Regions from separate parts of the Homo sapiens genome. Here region 1 is linked to region 2. The links come from fine-mapping of genetic effects on gene expression. A gene starts in region 2. The other region holds a variant in brackets. All regions are shown on one strand. Distances are from middle to middle. Region 1 holds the start of LINC00294 (long intergenic non-protein coding RNA 294). Region 2 holds the start of DEPDC7 (DEP domain containing 7).

Region 1 (10,831 bases), 60 kb after region 2:
TAATCTTCCACCTTTTTATGTGATCGTCAGCGATGGCTAACAATGGTCTCAGGATGTGTTGCTCCTCGGAGAGCAGAGCATGTCTCCAGTCTTCCTTTACTCACTCATGCATTCATTCATTTTTTTTGTTTTGTTTTGTTTGGGGACAGAGTCTGGCTCTGTCGCCCAGGCTGGAGTGCAATGGCATGATCTCAGCTCACTGTAACCTCCACCTCCTGGGTTCAAGTGATTCTTGTGCCTCAGGCTCCCGAGTAGCTGGGACAACAGGTGTGCGCCACCACACCTGGCTACTTTTTATATTTTTAGTAGAGACGGGGCTTCACCACAATGGCCAGGCTGGTCGAACTCTTGACCTCAGGTGACCCGCCCACCTTAGCCTCCCAAAGTGCTGGGATTACAGGCGTGAGCCACCGCGCCTGGCCACTCATGCATTCATTCTTGCATTCCAAGTGTGTTTGAGCTTCTCCTGGGAGCTGGGTCTCATGCCAGTCACTGTGCTGAGTGCTGAGGAGACATGATGAACAAGATGAGCATGGCTCCTACCTTCATGAAACTAACCATCTAGAGGGGAGAGAAAACATTATAAATGGGATGAATATGCAGAAGTGCAAGGTGCTGTGGGTATCTGGTCTGGGAGTATTGATCGGGGACAACTTCCCCTAAGAGGTGATGGTTAAGCTAAGAACTGAAGCACAGTAAGGTTTGTAAGGTGAAGGACAAGAAACAACTGACCACTTTCTTTTTTGTCACAGAATCTCGAATCCTGACCTTCTTAGAAACCTACCTTGCCTCGGGTCATCAGAAGCCATTGCCCACAGTCCCTGGGGGACTCAGTCCAGTTCAGAGAGAGCTGGAGGAAGTTGCTATTAAATTTGCTCGCCTGGTCAACTATAACAAGATGGTCTTCTGTCCCTACTACGATGCAATCCTGAGTAAGATCCTCGTCCGATCCTAACGTGTATGCACCCTACAGCAGCAGTATTACTCACTAGCCACAGAATACCTGTTCTGTACTCTAATGTTGCATTGGAAAATGGCTATATAGTACATGTCTATTTAACAGCACCGATTCCAAAGGGAAGAATATTGTGTATCACTGTTGAAAAGACTTGTTGAGAAATCCACTGAATTCTATTTTGAGAGATTGTATTTATGAGTGCAAGTTTACAAATCAAAGAAGCATTTTGTTCTCGAGTTTTACAGGTAACACTCAGCTGTTGTCTCCACTCCTCCCCCATCATGTCCTTCCAAGGAGGCTGGGACCTCTCTCTTCTGCAATCTGGGTAGTTCTTTCAGATGCCTCATGCTGAGCTGACGGCCATCCAAGCGCAAAAGAGACCAAGCCATGGCCTCACCTCCTGCCCTCCCTCAGACAGCCTTGTCCCTCACCCCTCCCTTCTGGTATTTTTGTTAGAAGGGCTATATAACGTCTTATTGCCATTTTCTCCCCCTATTTATTGCTTCCTCCCTGCCTGGCCTAGCCAGGGCTCCCAAGCCCTTTTTTCTAGAGGAGAGTTATTTGTCTCTCTCTCTTTTTTTTTTTACTTTCTTTTTTGTATTTAAACATTCTTTTAACCTTCCCCCAAAGATACAGTTATTGGACTTTAAAAAGCTTGTTCTTTTATACAAAATTACTCCTGCATCTGGTTGAGAGCAGTTATGACTTATGAGATCTAGTGAAAGGAAAGTCTTTGACTTTCAAGCCTTGAAAGTCAAGGAGGAAATGTATTGAAAAATAGTTTACTGTAATGTGAACGAAGAGAAATGTCTGGAATTCTTACTGAAAAATTGACCCTGAGACAATACACAGATGTGATGATTGAATTAAATTCTGGAATTAGATTTAACTGTTTTCAGATAAAATAGCTTGAGTTCACGAATCTCCTAGATGAGGAAGTCATAGGAAATCCCTGGTGTTTGAGCATTATTTTTCAAGGAACTTCAGTGACCAGAATTCCTGACATGTCCTCTGAGCGTGAGTGATTTGGGTCTCATAGACGATCTGTTCTTTTTTTTTTTTTTTTTTTTTTTTTAAAGTGTACACATGTATGTCTGCATTTTAGACAGGGATGTTATATTAGAAGCAGAGCCATGAAGTTGGAATGACCAACTGCCACAACAGCAAGGGGTAAGACTATATTACTGTATGAGTAATGCAGTAATATCGGCACCTGAAGCCTTCTGTACAGGAAGCTAAGAGAAACTTACAAGTTAGCCGGGCGTGGTGGCTCACGCCTATAATCCCAGCACTTTGGGAGGCCGAGGCAGGCAGATCACCTGAGGTCAGGAGTTTGAGACCAGCCTGGGCAACATGGTGAAACCCCATCTCTACTAAAAATACAAAAATTAGCTGGGTGTGGTGGCACGCGCCTGTAATCCCAGCTACTTGGGAGGCTGAGGCAGGAGAATCGCTTGAACCCGGGAGGCAGAGGCTGCAGTGAGCTGAGATAGCACCACTACATTCCAGCCTGGGCAACAGAGTGAGACTCTGTCTCAAAAAAAGAAAAAAGAAAAGAAACTTGGAAGCCATTTCAGAAAGACTCCAGGAAGGCCAGCAGCCACTCCTGCACAACCAGGGGGAAGGGCTACATTTTACTGCAAGCAGCTGTTTTCTCTGATCCTTCTTTGTAAGGAAGTGCAGTGATTTTGTGTTTTGAAGGAAGACTTGAAGAAGCAGTTGGGTAGGTATTCCAATAGGACTGATGGGGAGGAAATCAGATACTCCATGAGAAGGATTTCAGACCTGGTAGAGTCAGAATACATTCTGCTTTCAGGATTTTTGAGATTGCTGATGGTCCCAGGGTTTATACAAGGACTTGGATCTGGCTATAGAAACTCAGGTAGAAATTACATGTATGCAGATCAGCACTGATGTTGGTTCTAATCTATAATGATGTGATAAATTAAAAAAACAAAACAAAAAACAGGGCTGGGCATGGTGGCTTACACTATAATCCCAGTACTTTGGAATGCCAAGGCAGGAGCATCATCTGAACCCAGGATTTCAAGTCCAGCCTAGGCAACATAGTGAGATCATGTCTCTACAAAAAATACAAAAAAAATTAGCCTGTTGTGGTGGCACACAGTTGTACTCCCAGCTACAAGCTGAGGCTGAGGCAAAAGGATCACTTGTGCCCAGGAGTTTGAGGCTGCAGTGAACTATGATCATGCCACTGTACTCCAGCCTGGGTGACAGAGCCAGACCCTGTCTCTCCTTAACAAAAAAAAGTAGAGCCAGATGTATCTTTTTGGGTCCCAGGCAGGAGACTGGAGAATCTGGGTCACTGTAATCTGGCAGACTGGCTGCATTTTGTGAGGGTACTTTTATTCATATTTATTTATTTTTGTTTGTTTGAATGCATTATTATTTTTTTAATAGAAACCACATCACTTCATTTGTTACAGCGAATAATTCAAGAGGGTCCCAGAAAGCTTTTTCATCCACAGAATTACAGAAAGGATAAGCACCCTCACCACCCAAGCCTTTGGTTCATTTTTTATTTTTTCAAGACGGAGTCTTGCTCTGTCACCCAGGCTGGAGTGTGGTGGCGCGATCTCAGCTTACTGCAACCTCCATCTCCCGGTTTCAAGCGATTCTCCTGCCTCAGCCTCCTGAATAGCTGGGATTACAGGCACGCGCCACCATGCCCGGCTAATTTTTGGATTCTTAGTAGAGACGGGGTTTCACCATGTTGGCCAGGCTGGTCTCGAACTCTTGACCTCGTGATCCATCCGCCTCGGGCCTCCCAGAGTGCTGTGATTACAGTCGTGAGCCACCACACCCGGCCTGTCTTTAAGTTTTATACTAGTTAGGAGGCTAGTCTATCAGAATGTCCCTAATTTAGCTGAGGAACCTAGACAAGTCTTCCTTGATTTCAGCTTCATCCCAAGGCCTCTGAATATTTTCTTTAAAAAGCTGCAGGCGAATGAGGTAAAATGGACAGAGACATGAGATAGAAATCAACAGAAGGGCAAAGAGTACGGCTCCCACAGCACTAATAGGCAGTAGGCCTTCCAAGACCGAAAAGGCAAAAAGCAGTGTGACCACCACATAGCCCTTGGGAGTCCGTGCCTTTAGTTTCTTCTGTAGCATGAGCCACAGGACAAAAATCTGGATGGCAAGTGTTCCCATGATGAAGACATGCAGGGACTGGGGAAGGTGGAAGCCAAGCATCCAGAAGCAAAGATGGCCATGTTCAAGGATAGTGTGCTGGATACAGTGGATACAAAGGCATCATTGGCACCATAGTTAAAAAAGATGAGGTGGCCTACCAGCATGAAGACTGACATGGCATAGATGGTGTCAGTGCTGACAGACTCTGTCAGGGTCTTAGCACTGGTGAAAAGCCATAAGTGAAAGTAATGAAGACTAGGGCACTCTTCAGGTCAGCCCACCGGGTCCACCCACTCTTCTGCCCTTCACCTCCATCAGTGAGATCAAACAAAACATACCCAATCAGTGAAGAAGCCAGGCCAGTCCCAAAAAGCCATTGGGGGGCCAGAAGACCCTCATCCATATACCACCAGATAACCAGAAAAACAAAAACACTGCACAGCTGCGGGATCACCACACTGGACTCAAATACCATAGCCCAATATTGGTATTTCCGAGCATGGATGTTTTTCCAGAGCTCTTCCAGGAACCGCCGGTCCACAAAGTTATCAGGAAAGGGCTGTTGCTCATACAAGACCCTCTGCCACTTTACCTCCTTGGTGTTTGTTACAGGTTGGGTACACATAATCCTTTCATTCAAACTCAGGCTAGTTTAATCATCCCTCTCACAGAGGTCCATGTGGTTCTTGTTGATGACATTTTGAAATGAGACCTCCCTGGAAATTCCATGCCTTGGTTGATATTCTGCTGACCTTTCCTTGTTTTCAAAGGCAGCAATCCAGGCCAGGCCTACAATAGATGAGTTTGTCTCTGAGGCAGGATATAATACAGCCAAGTTCCTGGGGATGCGTGACTGGGAGATGGCAGTTGCCTGCCTTTTTCCTTGTAAGG[G/GT]TTTTTTTTTTTTTTGAGATGGAGTCTTGCTCTGTCGCCCAGGCTGGAGTGCAGTGGCGCGATCTCGGCTCACTGCAACCTCTGCCTCCCAGGTTCACGCCATTCTCCTGCCTCAGCCTCCCAAGTAGCTGGGACTACAGGCGCCTGCCACCATGCCTGGCTAATTTTTTTGTATTTTTAGTAGAGACGGGGTTTCACCGTGTTAGCCAGGATGGTCTCGATCTCCTGACCTCGTGATCCACCCGCCTTGGCCTCCCAAAGTGCTGGGATTGTAGGCGTGAGCCACTGCGCCCTGCCATGAGGGTACTTTTAAAGAAGATAACATCTTCCATGGTGTATTCAATGAGGTCGTGTCTGGAATTGTTCCCTTAAGGTGGAGGCTGCTCTGTGGCCACTGTGCCTGGCGGTTGTATGATCCTGGGTTCCTGGGCAGAGAAGCCTCAGCCTCAGAGTGTTTGGGGCCTTTTCCTGCCGCTCCAAGGCTGAAGGAGAGGAGCTTAACCCCAACTGCACAGCGCTGATCACCACTTCCTGCAGTCATTCTTCCTAAATCTCAAAAACTCTTCTTTTGTAAGAGTAGATTCTTGCAAGATATTTTTCCCCTCCTGAGTTCTTACATTGCCAGAGTTCCATTTGGACCGTTTGAAATCTTGATGCATGAATAACTGGCTTCACAGACTCTTGGCCGCCCACTACCTCGGTGTCCACTGGTGGAGTTCTGCAACTGGCAAAAGTCAAGAATGAAGGAAGCAAACTTCAGAACCACAATATTCATATTGAATCATTTTGTTGTTGCTCTATGAAGATAAGCTAATTTTCTTCCTGGAATCTCATAGGATTATTACTAAGGGCCAGGGAGATCCACTTCGTTCATTTAGTCACTCAGGAAGCATTGCTAAGCATCCCCCTGTACCTTCCCCTACAGCTCTCCTTCCAAAACGAAACATCCTTTGGAGTGTGTTGTCCTCCAGAATCGAATGGATTCTATATGCTGCATTCAGTAACAGGTTGTGGAGACAAGTGTCTTTTCCTGAAATTGCTAAGTGTATTTGGCAGTACTTTACTACTTGTGGATAGAACTGAGAGTGAGGTCAGTATCACCAAGCCTCTTGGATTTCTTCAGTAGTCTCATGGATAAGTGAATGTTTAAAGTAACTACTACTTTGTTGGCTCTTGGTTGGGTGGATGGATTCTCAGTCCTGGTGTTTTTAAAAATCTCATTCCAGCCGGGCGCGGTGGCTCACGCCTGTAATCCTAGCACTTTGGGAGGCTGAGGCGGGCAGATCACCTGAGGTCAGGAATTCGAAACCAGCCTTACCAACATGGCAAAACCCATCTCTATTAAAAATACAAAAATTAGCCGGGTGTGGTGGCACGTGCCTGTAATCCCAGCTACTCGGGAGGCTGAGGCAGGAGAATCACTTGAACCCTGGAGGTGGTGGTTGCAATGAGCCGAGATTGCGCCATTGCACTCTAGCCTGGGTGACAGAGCGAGACTCCGTCTCAAAAAAAAAAAAAATCGCATTCCGTCTAAAGCAAGCTACAAAATGTGATTATTTATGTCACGATATGACCCAGCCATAAATGTACTTCAGGTAAGAAGGACACTGACATGATATCTTACTGATCAAATGCAGTCAGTAGGTATATATGAACTTTTTTCTCTGTGAAGAAAAGCTATTAATAAGTTTGACTTAATAGGCCTATAGTATGCACATACTGGCCAAGATTCTAAATGGATTATTCAGCGGTTCTGTTTTTGTGGAGGTGCTTATTCTCATTTCTCCAAAGCCTTAAGATTCCTGGGAATAGAGGAAATGTTGCTGCCACCAGCTTTGCTGGTGAATTTCAAAGAGAATAGGTGTTTGCTGTTTGATTTCTAGTGACCTTTTGGCGAGCTCTGATTTATAGGTAGAACATTTGTGTTTCTTTTCATTTTGAGGCCAGGTGGTAGAGTGGAAAGACTGGGAGCTGTCAGGAAACCAAGGCTTGGATCTCCACTCTGTTATGTACCAGCTGGGGCAAATCAGGGCCCATTCCCAACTCCTTTAAAATGAAAGGACTAGACTTGGTCTTTAAGCTCCCTTCCGATTCTAACATTTGGTGGTAGCAGGATTGTGCACAAAGCTCCTAATTTAGAGAAAGATCTGGGTTTTAGTCTTTTCTCCTCTATCGCCGCCTTACCGGTTGTACAACATTGGACCAGCCATTCTCCCCAAGGCCTCGGCATTTTCATTGTTAAATGGGAACACTCCTAATTCACACTGTTGCTGTGAGGATTACATTTGGTAATGAATGATAGAATGCTTTGTACATGGAAAAGGACTATACCTTTCTTTTTTAACTACAAAGGCGAACATGTAACCCTCTACCTGTGGGCGCACATTTGCTGTGGTGTTACGTTCCACTGGTAGCGCCCAACCTCCCTTCATTCAAGCACATTTTACGGGCCTACAGGGAAGGTTTTCTTCCTGTCCTCTCCTAAGACTTGTTTATGTTCATCATCTCTTCTATACTAGAGCTGCAGTCTTACATTTGCTTACTTCCTGACATCCACCCCCACCCCAGTGATTTCTCCCCATCTCCACCTCTATATTATTTGAACTAAATGAATTCATGAATGAACAAATGAGTGGATGAATGAATGGTAATGGATAATGGGCTATGAAGTCATATTTAAAGGCACTATCTCATTTAAAAACAATCTAAATAAATAACTACAATGATATTTGCAAGTGTGTATTTATATTGGATTTTGCATTATATAATTATTTTAATGGAAAGCCTTTTTAGTCATAGTATTCAAAGCAACTTCAATGGGTGGGGAAGGGGATAATCTTTAAGCCCAGGTAAGCTCTGTTTATTAAACGATCAAGTGTTCACTGGTACTTTCAGAAATAGCCAGAGTTCTACAAAATATGTGTTAAAAGTCTAAACATATAATTCTACTTAAAACTGTCCCTCATGTGGGTTTCTGTCACACCTGACTTACATTTATTGCCTACCGAACTTAAGAACCAGAACTAAGCTATAGGCCTGGTTCGATGGAGTGTCACTTTTCTTGACTTAAAAGTAACCTTAAAACAAGAGGGGCTGGGCAAGGTGGCTCACGCCTGTAATCTCAGAACTTTGGGAGGCCGAGGCAGGCAGATCATTTGAGGCCAGGAACTCTAGACCGGCCTGGGCAACATGGCAAAACCTTGTCTCTACTAAAAGTACAAAAATTAGCCAGGCGTGGTGGCATAGGCCTGTGCTCCCATCTCAGCAGGCTGAAGTGGGAGGATTGCTCGAGCCCGGGAGGCAGAGGTTGCATTCAGCCAAGATCATGCCACTGCATTCCAGCCTGGGTGACAAAGTGAGACCCTATCTCAAGAAAATAAAAAATAAAAAAAAGAAGGGCTTCACATGGTGGCTAATCCCAGCAGTTTGGGAGGCTGACGTGGGAGGACTGCTTGAGCCCAGGAGGTCAAGACCAGGCTGGACAACACAGGTAGATCCTGTTTCTACATAAAATTTAAAAAATTAGCTGGGTATGGTGGATGGTGGTGCATGCCTGTGGTCCCAGCTACTTGGGAGGCTGAGGTGGGAGGATTATGCTGTGATCATGTCTCAAAACAAACAAAAAGACTTATGAAAATTTTTGTTTTCTTTTGTTTTGATTGTTTGTTTTTGAGATGGAGTCTCACTCTGTTGTCCAGGCTGGAGTGCAGTGGCACAATCTCAGCTCCCAAGCTCAAGCAATTCTCCTGCCTCAGCCTCCCCGAGTGGCTGGGATTACAGGTGTGCGCCACCATGCCCGGCTGATTTTTGTATTTTTAGTAGAGATAGGATTTCACCATGCTGCCCAGGCTGGTCTTGAACTCCTGACCTCAGGTGATTTGCTCGCCTTGGCCTCCCAAAGTGCTGGGATTATATATGTGAGCCACCGTGCCTGGCTGAAATTTTTATTAAGTAAAACGTAAGTTCACTTGCTCATTGCCACAGTCAAAGAACTACCATGTTAAAAAAAATAATAATAATAATTTATGACCATGATGACTATGGTTTAATAAAATTGAACTCAACATTTATTAACTATAGGCCAATACAGGGTTATAATATCAAATAAATTCATAATTATTGACCAGGGTCAATATACTAACAGAAATGATGTGTTTTTCCTTCTTTTTCTTTGGTACAGTTTGGTTGTTCAGAAAGTTTACTAGTAGTTTCTATTAACCTTTTACTGTACTAGATGTGGCCACATAGGTGCAACCTCTTGTTTGAAGTTTAGTGGTAAAGGCCAGAGTTTGACTAATTTTTGTTTAGGAAGGACATACATATAGTCCTTGAAACTTTTGTCTAGTTCTAGAATCTTGAGGAGATGCTGTCATTGCTTTTATAAACAGGAAAAAGATGGATATCTTTTGGCAATTTCTTTGGGTCCAGCAATACTGATATGAGTCCTTGGAATTGTAGGACTGATTATCCCATGAGTCTGCACATTAGATTTCCAAAGGTAAGTTCAGATGTCTAACATCATGCTGCTTGTTGAACTGTTTAACAAAAGGAATTATCAAATATCAGGCAGAATCACCTTAAAAACTAAAAATTCATACATATCTCTAGCAGTTAGAACATTCGAAAATGTTTTCTTCTAATGAGAATCCTTTTTATGCTCAAAGAGCTGATCATTTCTAGGAGAAAAAAATCCTATAAATAAATGCAATAGGAACAATTATAATATACATAGTAGCCTTAATAATAATTGATATGGTTTGAATCTGTGTCCCCACCAAATCTCATGTCAAATTGTAATCCCCAGTGTTGGAGGTAGGGCTTGGTGGGAGGTGTTGGTCCAGGGGGGTGAAGTTCCCATGAAAGGGTTAGCACCATCCTCTCGGTGCTGTTCTTGTGACAGTGAGTTCTCATGGAATCTGGTTGTTTAAAAGTGTGTGGCACCTCCCCCCTTTCTTCATCCTGCCCTGGCCGTGTAAAACGTCCCTCTTCCCCTTCACCTTCTGCCGTGATTATACATTTCCTGAAGCTTCTCCAGAAGCAAATGCCACTAATCTATCTATACAGCCTACGGAACCATGAGCCAGTTAAGCTTCTTTTCTTTAAAAATTACCCAGTCACAGGTATTTCTTTATAGCATTGTGGGAATGGACTAATAAAGTGATTAAAGACACTTTTCACCAAGTGTGTGTGTGCGTGTGTGCACGCACGCACGCGCACACACGCTAAAAAATGGTTTTTCACACATGTTCGCATGGCTTTGTTTTATTGTCTGTGGGAACACTTTGGCAGATCACTTACAGGTATTTGAAACTGTTTTGTCTTCTTTTTTTTTTTTTGAGACGGAGTTTCGCTCTTGATGCCCAGGCTGGAGTGCAATGGTGCGATCTCGGCTCACTGCAACATCTCCTTCCCAGGTTCAAGCAATTCTCCTGCCTCAGCCTCCCAAGTAGCTGGGATTGCAGGCATGTGCCACCATACCTGGCTAATTTTGTATTTTTAGTAGAGACAGGGTTTCACCATGTTGGTCAGGCTGGTCTTGAACTCCTGACCTCAGGTGATCCGCCTACCTTGGCCTCCCAAAGTGCTGTGATTATAGGCGTGCGCCACCTCGCCCGGCCTGTTTGTCTTCAAAACACTAACTGTGGAGTCCTAATTAGGGAAAGGGAGTCAGGCTGGTGGGAGCAGGGAAAAGCAGATAAATTATGAGTCTGCCTTTCTTCATGGTCCAGGACATGTAGCCGTACTGCACCCAACTTATCACCAGACACCTGCAAGTTAGCTCACTGCAACACTGGCATTCTCAGTAGTACATAAAACCCTCTTCAG
Region 2 (9,371 bases):
GCATGCACCACCACGCCTGGCTAATTTTGTATTTTTAGTAGAGACGAGGTTTCTCCATGTTGGTCAGGCTGGTCTCGAACTCCTGACCTCAGGTGATCTGCTAGCCTTGGCCTCCCAAAGTGCTGGGATTACAAGCATGAGCCACCACACCCGGCAATTTTCCAATTTTCTTAGGCAATTAAGATATGTGTGTGCTCCCGTTAGAATGGCGATCATTAAAAAGTCAGGAAACAACAGATGCTGGAGAGGATGTGGAGAAACAGGAACACTTTTACACTGTTGGTGGGACTGTAAACTAGTTCAACCATTGTGGAAGACAGTGTGGCAATTCCTCAAGGATCTAGAACTAGAAATACCATTTGACCCAGCCATTCCATTACTGAGTATATACCCAAAGGATTATAAATCATGCTGCTATAAAGACACATGCACACGTATGTTCACTGCAGCACTATTCACAATAGCAAAGATTTGGAACCAACCCAAATATCCATCAATGATAGAATGGATTAAGAAAATGTGGCACATATACACCATGGAATACTATGCAGCCATAAAAAAAGGATGAGTTCATGTCCTTTGTAGGGACATGGATGAAGCTGGAAACCATCATTCTCAGCAAACTATCGCAAGGACAAAAAACCAAACACCACAGGTTCTCACTCATAGGTGGGAATTGAACAATGAGAACACTTGGACACAGGAAGGGGAACATCACACACTGGGGCCTGTCGTGGGGTCGGTGGAGCAGGGAGGGATAGCATTAGGAGATATACCTAATGTAAATGACGAGTTAATGAGTGCAGCACACCAACATGGCACATGTATACATATGTAACAAACCAGCATGTTGTGCACATGTACCCTAGAACTTAAATTATAATAAAAAAAGATATGTGTGTGCTGTAATAATCAGAGAGTATCAATACAAGCAGGAGATGAATAGTAATGCATTTGATAAGTGCCACAGGTGCTCAGAGAAAAAAAACACACCCGGGTAACCTGGAAAAATCTGTCCAGGGAAGAAAGTGGGAAAAGGGATAGGCATTTCCTATCCCATGGTTGTAGAAAGTATCTGAGTAGAGATGAACATTTCAGCATTCCAGAAGAGGTAAACAATTATTGCATAACCTGGTGAAAAACTCTCTGAAATGTTATATAAAGTATCAAAATGGTCACTGAGGTCACCAAGCTTTTTCAAATATTAGTGTTTTTCAAGATTTGTCTTCTGAGACAGATGAGCTTTTCCCCCCTCCCATGCAGTGAGGGAGGACTTGTGTGTTCATTCAGTTATACAGCACGGGATAAAGTTCATTGGTATACTGGGTGCCTGAAACCAGCCCTGAATGCATCCTCTTTCTGTGTGTAGCAGCCAATTGAGAGATTACAAAGAAAATCCTTAAACAGAAGTAAAGCAGGGTTTTACTACCATCAGGGGAAGAGGTCACATTAAAAAAAGGTTGCCAACTGGTTGGCAACCTTTTTTTTTCTTTTTTGAGATGGAGTCTCACTCTGTCATCCAGGCTGGAGTGCAGTGGCACAATCTTCGCTCATTGCAACTTCCGCCTCCTGGATTCAAGCGATTCTCCTGCCTCAGCTTCCCAAGTAGCTGGGATTACAGGTGCCTGCCACCACACTCGGACAGTTTTTGTATTTTTAGTAGGGGTTTCGCCATCTTGGCCAGGCTGTTCTCGAACTCCTGACCTCGAAGATCCCCCTGCCTCGGGCCCCCCAAAGTGCTGGGACTACAGGCGTGAGCCACCGTGCCTGGCCAGCTTTTTCTAACACTAAGCAGCAGCAACTGGCCCCCACCTCCCACCCACAAACCCAAGTCCCCAGGGGCAGCTTCTTAGTATGTATTCTCTGAAACAATCCCATGTAGAAGCTCTTTCCAATAAGCTAAATAATGAACTCCCACTTAAACACCATTCTAATTTACACCTAAATCACACAAGCATCCTCCTTCTAAGAAGACGTCATAATCGTTTTGAAAATCATTGCAAAATTCCCAAACTTGAAAAAAAAGAAAAAAAAAAGGGCAAGTGTCTGGCAATTGGATTATTGGTCTCTAAGACCACTCATCCTTTCAGAGGTATCCAGCATTGGATCCCTGGCCTGGCTTCAACTTCCAAGTAACTAAGATGTGTCCCATTAATAGCCCTTCCTCCTTTTCTCTCCTCACCTTCACTCCAACCGGCAGCAAACTGTCCCTACCCACCCGACCCACAGTTCCTTTGGAGGCAGCACAGATTTCCTGGCAGCCAGTCCCAGGGTCTTTCGTTGCTGCCCTCCTGTGACCTCTAGACATTGCTCTCCTGGGCCACATAGGATTTGTTTGTTCTGCACAGGTAGGGATGTCTGAAAAACTCGATTATTATTGTTATTATCACTATTACTACTACTACTATGACATAATTTTAAGCACTTACGTTCCGGACGCAGTTACTAAATGCTGAACCTGAATTGGTTCCTATAAACCTCGTTAAAAAACAAACAAACATCTCAGTGAAGCAGGTACTAAACCTACCCCCGCATCACAGGTGAGGACACCGACGCACAGAGCAGTTAGGCAGCTTGCCAGGTTCCCGACTTTTTCTATTTCTTTTTTTTTTTTTTTTTTTTTTGAGACGGAGTCTCGCTGTGTCGCCCAGGCTGGAGTGCAGTGGTGGATCTCGGCTCACTGCAACCTCCGCCTCCTGAGTTCAAGCGATTCTTGTGCCTCGGCCTCCCGAGTAGCTGGGATTACAGGCGCCTGTCACCAAGCCCAGCTAATTTTTGTATTTTTAGTAGAGAAGGGGTTTCGCCATGTAGGCCAGGCTGCTCTCGAACTCCTGACCTCAGGTGCTCTACCTGCCCTGGCCTCCCAAAGTGCTGGGATTACAGGCGTGAGCCACCGCGCCCGGCCTGGTCCCGAGTTAATCTACGGCAGGCCGCGGTTCGAATCCCGCTGGTGTGAGCCGCGGGCCGCGTAGTGCCGGCCCAGGGAACCGCTTTGTCCCCGACCACCGCTCGCGTGGCATCGCGCCCGAGGAAACTTGGATCGCTGGCGCCGCGGGCTACGTTCAGTGGTTGCCAGAGAGACACGTGACCGGCAGCGGGGGCGGGGCCTGCAGGGAGCCACGCCCCGCACAGTTAACAGACGGGCGCTCAGGGAGCTAGGGAGCTGTGAAGCTGCTGGAGGAGTTGGCGTCCGGGGAGCAAGGGCCATGGCCACCGTGCAGGAGAAGGCTGCTGCGCTGAACCTCTCGGCTCTCCACAGCCCCGCGCACAGGCCTCCGGGTAGGTGCCGAGGACTGCCGCCTGGGATGGCGCGGGGCGGGCTGGGGTGCGCGGGCTGGGTCCCGGCGCGGGGCGGGCGGCGTGGGGCGTTCGGCCGCCTGCGCCTGTCAACGGCCGGCTGGGCGAGCACAGCACAGCTGCGACCACTTGGCCAACGCCCCCGCCGAGCGGGCGGATCGAGTTCCTCTCTGGCTGGTGGGCTGCAAGCGGCAGAGCCCGCCCGCACAGCCCAGCTTTTTTCTTTCTACCCAGACTCTCAACTTGACCGCGCGTTGGTCTGTGCGCCCGCTAACGTGCCAGGCACGCGCCGGGGAGCTCCGGGATATGCTCCGCGGTGCTACCGGTGACAAGTGTGGTATCTGGAATTTGTGTAGTTCTTTGCCCCCTGTCTCAACCACAAACCTTGACGACACAGTATGGCCAGGGGCCGAGCTCCTCCCTTGCCCACTTTGTTCTCCAGACTGCTAGGAGTCAAGAGTCAGCTTGTCTCCCCAGACTCTTCCTGGGAGGGATGAGAGGTTTATGTGAGTTCTACTGGCAGGAATTTGGCATAAAAGGTATTTATTAACACTTTATGTATAAGCAGTATTTTAGTGAATAGAAGTTTTTGGCTAAAAAAACAGTTACATGAAATTAGGAGGGAAGTTGGCAAATTCTGCCACGGGCCTAATCGTGTCTTTTGGGGGCAGTTGATTTAGGATTCTGGTTTCTTTAAATGTTCAAACACATGAAGAGAATCGGATATCACTTCTAAAATGCTGGTTATAGCAGATCTACAACCCAGTTAATAGGGGTGACTCAGATAACTGTTAAGATACTCAGATAACCCTTGGCTTTTTTCTTTTGGTTAAGTTACAACTTTTTCCCCTTTCTGGAGCTCCAGTCTGGGATGTCGTAGGAATTAGTTCCCTTTCTGACAAAAGCCTTTCATTTGTAAAAACACCAACCAGTGAAACTGTGATTCCTTCCTCTGGGTCAAATGGGTGCTTCTCAGTGGCCCCACTCTTGTGTTTGACTTACTCACTAATGCTCATTTTAATCTTCAAAATGCTAACGACAGATTATGGTAGAGAACCATTTTTCACTTGTCCTTTTCTAAGAAAAATCATAATATTGACCTTAGTCTGCTTCCATGTAAAGGATTCAGGTAAGCACATAGTGGCCACATTGAGAATGTCTCCTTGATTTATGTTGTGAAGAGAAGACAAATGCTAAGACATTTGGGAATTTAAAACCAAATGACATTGAAAACAGTCTTGAGAAATCTTTTGGGCCCACTTACTCAGTGAAGGAAATTCCCAAATGTCACCTGCTTAAAATAAAAACATGGTACCCTGTTTTCTCTAATAGCTGAAATACCAATTCTGGAGCTTTGGGCATTTGTGAACAGGTTCTTAGATGGTGTAAGGAAGTATGTATTCAGAAATTAAGTAGATAACTCTCTAAGGGAAGAGTTGAAGTGCTGGTTATCAGGAATCAAAGGAACACTGTCCTCGGCACACTAGCTGCAGTGGACGGAGAGGGGCCCGCTGTTGTTCTCACTCGTTTTGCTTGCTACCGCTGGAATCCCGACCTGGTAACATTTGTTAGCCTTTCTTTCACCCTTTAGTTGCCTTGTCATAGTTCCAGTGAGCAAGGTAGTGGGAGCACACGGTTATTGGTTCTTTGCCATTCTCTTTCTGTGTGCTCTGGCAGGCAGCTTTGTACTTTTGTTTCTCCACCGATTAGTAACTCTCACTTACCTTAAAGGGGCTGTAATGACCAGGGACCTGATTTATGTACAAGAAATGAGATCTATATGCCAGTCTTCAGCCAGTATGTCAAAAACACTTGTCTTTTAATACGACAAACAAGAAAGTAGTCTGTTATCCTGTTATCCCTTTATACTGTAACCTAATTCTTTGAGTTTGCCTGGTATCACTTTTCCAGGGAGCTCAAAGTACTTCCCATATGCTGTCTCATTAATGTATGTGAATTAAAGCAGAGACCAATGTCTGCTTTTGCTGATAATTCTCGTAGATATTGTAAATTTTTCTTGTTGGTAGACTTCTTTTACCTACCTGCAGCCTTCTTTTCAGAGGCAATCGCAGTCTTCAGCATGACGCCTCTAATGCCAACTAGCAGGAAAATAAACTTTGGACTACCAGAACCAATATCCAGTAAAAGTGTTGTAATCTTGGGATCATAGTATAGAAAATTTTTCCACTCAGTCACAACTGTCAAGTTTTAACACCATAAACACAATTCTCTTTACATTTATCTATTAATATTTTCATGAGGTTTTGGTTACTATCCAACAAATGTCCTTTTTCTTTGTTGTCTTGACAATTCTTTGTGTGAGTAATATTTTAAAACCTCTTTTGAAAAAATCTTTCTTAAAATTCTCTTAAATCCTAAATGGTCTAGGATTTATAGATGTGTTATTTTCTGATGAAAAGTTAAATCCTCTGGTATGTGTCACATCTTGTCTTCTCATCTCCTGTTGGCCTTTATGTGATTGAATACTATTCAGAACTTGACATTATCATCCAGGTAGTAGGAGTAAATAAAAGGTAAACTCCTAAGGTTGGGGACTGTGTCCTCTGAGTTCAGAGGAAGGAAGAGGAAGAAAGATACCTCCCTTTTCTTTCTACTTTTAAAATAAAATTTTAGATTCACTAAATAGTATGGTCCATTTGTCATAATTAATGAACCAATATTGATACATATAATTATTAACTGAAGTCCACACTTAGATTCCCTTGGTGTTTGCCTAATGTTCTCTTCCAGGATCCCATCCAAGATATTATATTACATTCAGTTGTCATGTAATGAATCTACTCTTCTAGACTGTGACAGTTTGCTCCTTTTGTTTTTAGTGATACATCTGTTAATTTCTGGACATTTTGCGAGACACATTAACATATTGTCTCATGATCCTCGCAATGAGTGAGAGAAGTGGAGTTAGCTCTGTTTTGCAACAGAAAAGTTAGGCAGTTTGCCCAAGATCGTGTTATTAGTAAATGATGGACCCAACAACGGAACTCAGGTCCCTGGGACTGCAGAGTCCACACTGGTCTAACTCTTTGTAGTCACAGCACCTAGCACTGTGTCTGCTGCGTTAACTCAAGTTTCCATGTCTGAACAGTATTCAGTCAACCCAAGGTTTCTTAACCTTGGCACTACTGACGTTTTCTTTGTTGTGGGTGCTGTCTGTGCATTGTAAGATGTTTAGTAGCATCCCTCTACCCACTGGATGCCAGCAATACCCACACTCATTGTGACAATCAAAAATGTCTCCAGACATGTCCTGTTGGGGGTATAATCACCCACTGAGAACCACTGGGTTAACCTTCCTTTAAAAATTTTTTTTATGAACGGGGTGTAGTGGCTCACACCTGTAATGCCAGCACTTTGGGAGGTTGAGGCAGGTGGATCATTTGAGGCCAGGAGTTTGAGACCAGCCTGGCCAATGCGACAAAACCCCATTTCTACTAAAAATCCAAAAATTGTCTGGGTGTAGTGGCGCACACCTGTAATCCCAGCTACTCAGGAGGTTGAGGCAGGAGAATCGCTTGAACCCAGGAGGCAGAGGTTGCAGTGAGCCGAGATCACACCACTGCATTCCAACCTGGATGACAAAGTGAGACTCTGTCTCAAAAAAGAAAAAAAAGTAAGTTTTTTAGTAGTTAGCAATAATTAACAACTAACAAATATTGACTAACCAATTGTATTATATTGAGGCAATCTGTAAGGCAATTAAATAATTTAAACCTCTGTAAACCGCTAGGAAATCTGAAAGAAATCGGGCACTAGCTCACCATCTCTTAAAAGTTTTATGGAGAAACATCAACTGTCTGGATTCAGTTCCTTTTTTTTTTTTTTTTTTAAGTCCAGTCTAAAGACCGAGAATGGAAACAAATTTGTTATATGTTCATTAAGAGGTAGTGTGTTTTATTAATTCTGTGTGTATGTTTACCTTACATTGGGATCCAATTTTATAATGTGTATATTGATCTACTTCTAAAGATTTAATATAATCTTACTATTTGAAGTGATTATACAATTGTTTTCCCTTTAAATAGGTTTTCATAGGTTTTCACAGTAGGACTAGGGTTGCTGACAGGGTGGATTATGGTTGATGCTGATTATCCCTAATTTTTGGGTAAATGTAATTTCTTTACATTTTTAGGGAATTATTATGACTCAGTTATTTAGTGTGAATTCTTAGAAGTGAGGATGATTATTACTGGTACTACACGTATATATAAGTGTTCAATATTATCTTAGAAGTTTAACTTTTACTTTTGGTAAACGTTTTTTATGGTAGAGTTCAAATACATGTGAAGGGCAGCTTTTGAAAAATAGCTATTGTTTTCAAGCAAATAAGGATGAGACTGCTTGAAAAATGAAGGTTAACTAGCCTAGATTTATATAGTGCTTGAGACTATGTGTTGAAGGCTAGATAATCAAATTATTCCTGAGCCTCCTTAGGCAACCTTCCAAAAGGTTTTGTATCTGGTAGGGTCAAATTTGTCCATATGCTTCCTTTCTTGCCTATAGATCTGCCATATTTGGTGTTCAATGTCCTTATCTAAATGGAGGAGATATAATTTCAGTCTTTACATTCCTATAATCAGTTTATTTAAAGACAGGATCTCACTCTGTCACCCAGGCTGGAGTGCAGTGGTGCGATCCTAGCCCACTGTAACCTCGAACTCCTGGCCTCAAGCAATCTTCCCGCCATGGCCTCCCAAAGTCCTGGGGTCAGAGGCATGAGCCACTGTGCCTGCCCTGGCAGTTTAGACCTGAAACTAACCTAAAATATTGTGTTCAACTATTTTATCAGTAGATAAAGAAACCTACTTACAGAGATTGTCTCTTATCCAGAGTTTTTACAGCTGATCTCTAAACTCTTTGATTCCATTTGTTATGATGCTTTTAGAAAATGCTTGACCAGGCTGGGTGTGGTGGCTCACACCTGTAATCCCAGCACTTTGGGAGGCCGAGGTGGGTGGATCACGAGGTCAGGAGTTCCAGACCATCCTGGCCAACATGGTGAAACCCTGTCTCTACTAAAAATACAAAAAAAAATTAGCTGCACGTGGTGGCGCGTGCCTGTAATCCTAGCTACTTGGGAGGCTGAGGCAGGAAAATCACTTGAAGCAGGGAGTTGGAGGTTGCAGTGAGCCAAGATCGCACCACTGCACTCCAGCCTGGCGACAGAGTGAGACACCATCTCAAAAAAAAAAAAAGAAAAAAAAGAAAATGCTTGACCAAATGTAAGGAAGCATCAAGATGTAGATAGTGATGGATTTTAAAAGGTTGTTTAGCTCATATGAAAGTGAGGTTTGAGGACAAGCTGAACCCTTAATTCTGATTGCAAGACTTAAAAAACATTCATTGTCTATTTTTGGTCTCTTAAATCCTGTTTAGAAATCACAGTAAGTCATCTTACTGGGCCATGATCTGCTATACCAATATTCATTTCAGCTTTTAAATGACGATAAATAAGTTTCAAACCATATATGTTCAGCTGGTGAAGTCAGCATTTTAAAAAGCAGGTTATCCTGGTATGGGTTTTGGCACATTTACTTGTCAAGTCCAGGGTACATTGTGTATGAAAGCATCTGTATGAACATGAGCTAGTTTGTGGGTGGTGGTGCTTGAAGGGAAATATCCCAGGATGCAATGGTTGGGAATTAATGGTCAGTGAGAACAGAGGGGACCTGTGAGGGCTGCATTGTATCATGCCTGGAGGACTCTGGAAACCTGTGGTTCACAGGTGTCTACTCTCCTGCTCTAACTAGTTCTTTAATCTTTTATGCAGTGTTATACAACCTGCAGAACCTCCTGATTTCCCACAAGTTAATATGGGGAAATTTATTCTTTACCTCTTAATTCTTCTGTGAAGATTAGCCTTTTCTACTCATTGAGGCCAAATATCCCCTCTCACCGCCCTCTTCAGCTGTCTTACTGATCTGTAATTAATAAGTGACTCAGCCTTGTCATTTAGGATTTGTGTGCTAACCTACTTATAGCTCAAGTGTTATGACTTATGTGTTTCATCTTTATATTATCACTAGTCCAAAAGTCTGTCTCATTGGTTCTTA

Evidence for each region.
Region 1: its variant is fine-mapped to the expression of DEPDC7 in whole blood (INTERVAL, PIP above 0.99).

Annotation. Positions count from the first base shown.
Region 1 is chr11:33,071,722-33,082,552 of GRCh38, forward strand. It overlaps TCP11L1 (t-complex 11 like 1), which reads left to right. Exons shown (of 10, transcript NM_018393.4): 10 at 753-1,829. The coding sequence ends at 955. It overlaps LINC00294 (long intergenic non-protein coding RNA 294), which reads left to right and starts at 4,429. Exons shown (of 1, transcript NR_015451.1): 1 at 4,429-7,733. It also overlaps the pseudogene PIGCP1. The variant G/GT (reference allele first, on the strand shown) is at 5,006.
Region 2 is chr11:33,012,750-33,022,120 of GRCh38, forward strand. It overlaps DEPDC7 (DEP domain containing 7), which reads left to right and starts at 3,129. Exons shown (of 9, transcript NM_001077242.2): 1 at 3,129-3,279. The coding sequence starts at 3,207. It overlaps LOC105376615 (a long non-coding RNA gene), which reads right to left and starts at 3,041. Exons shown (of 4, transcript XR_931167.2): 1 at 2,528-3,041. RefSeq lists silencers at 2,974-3,023, 3,344-3,403.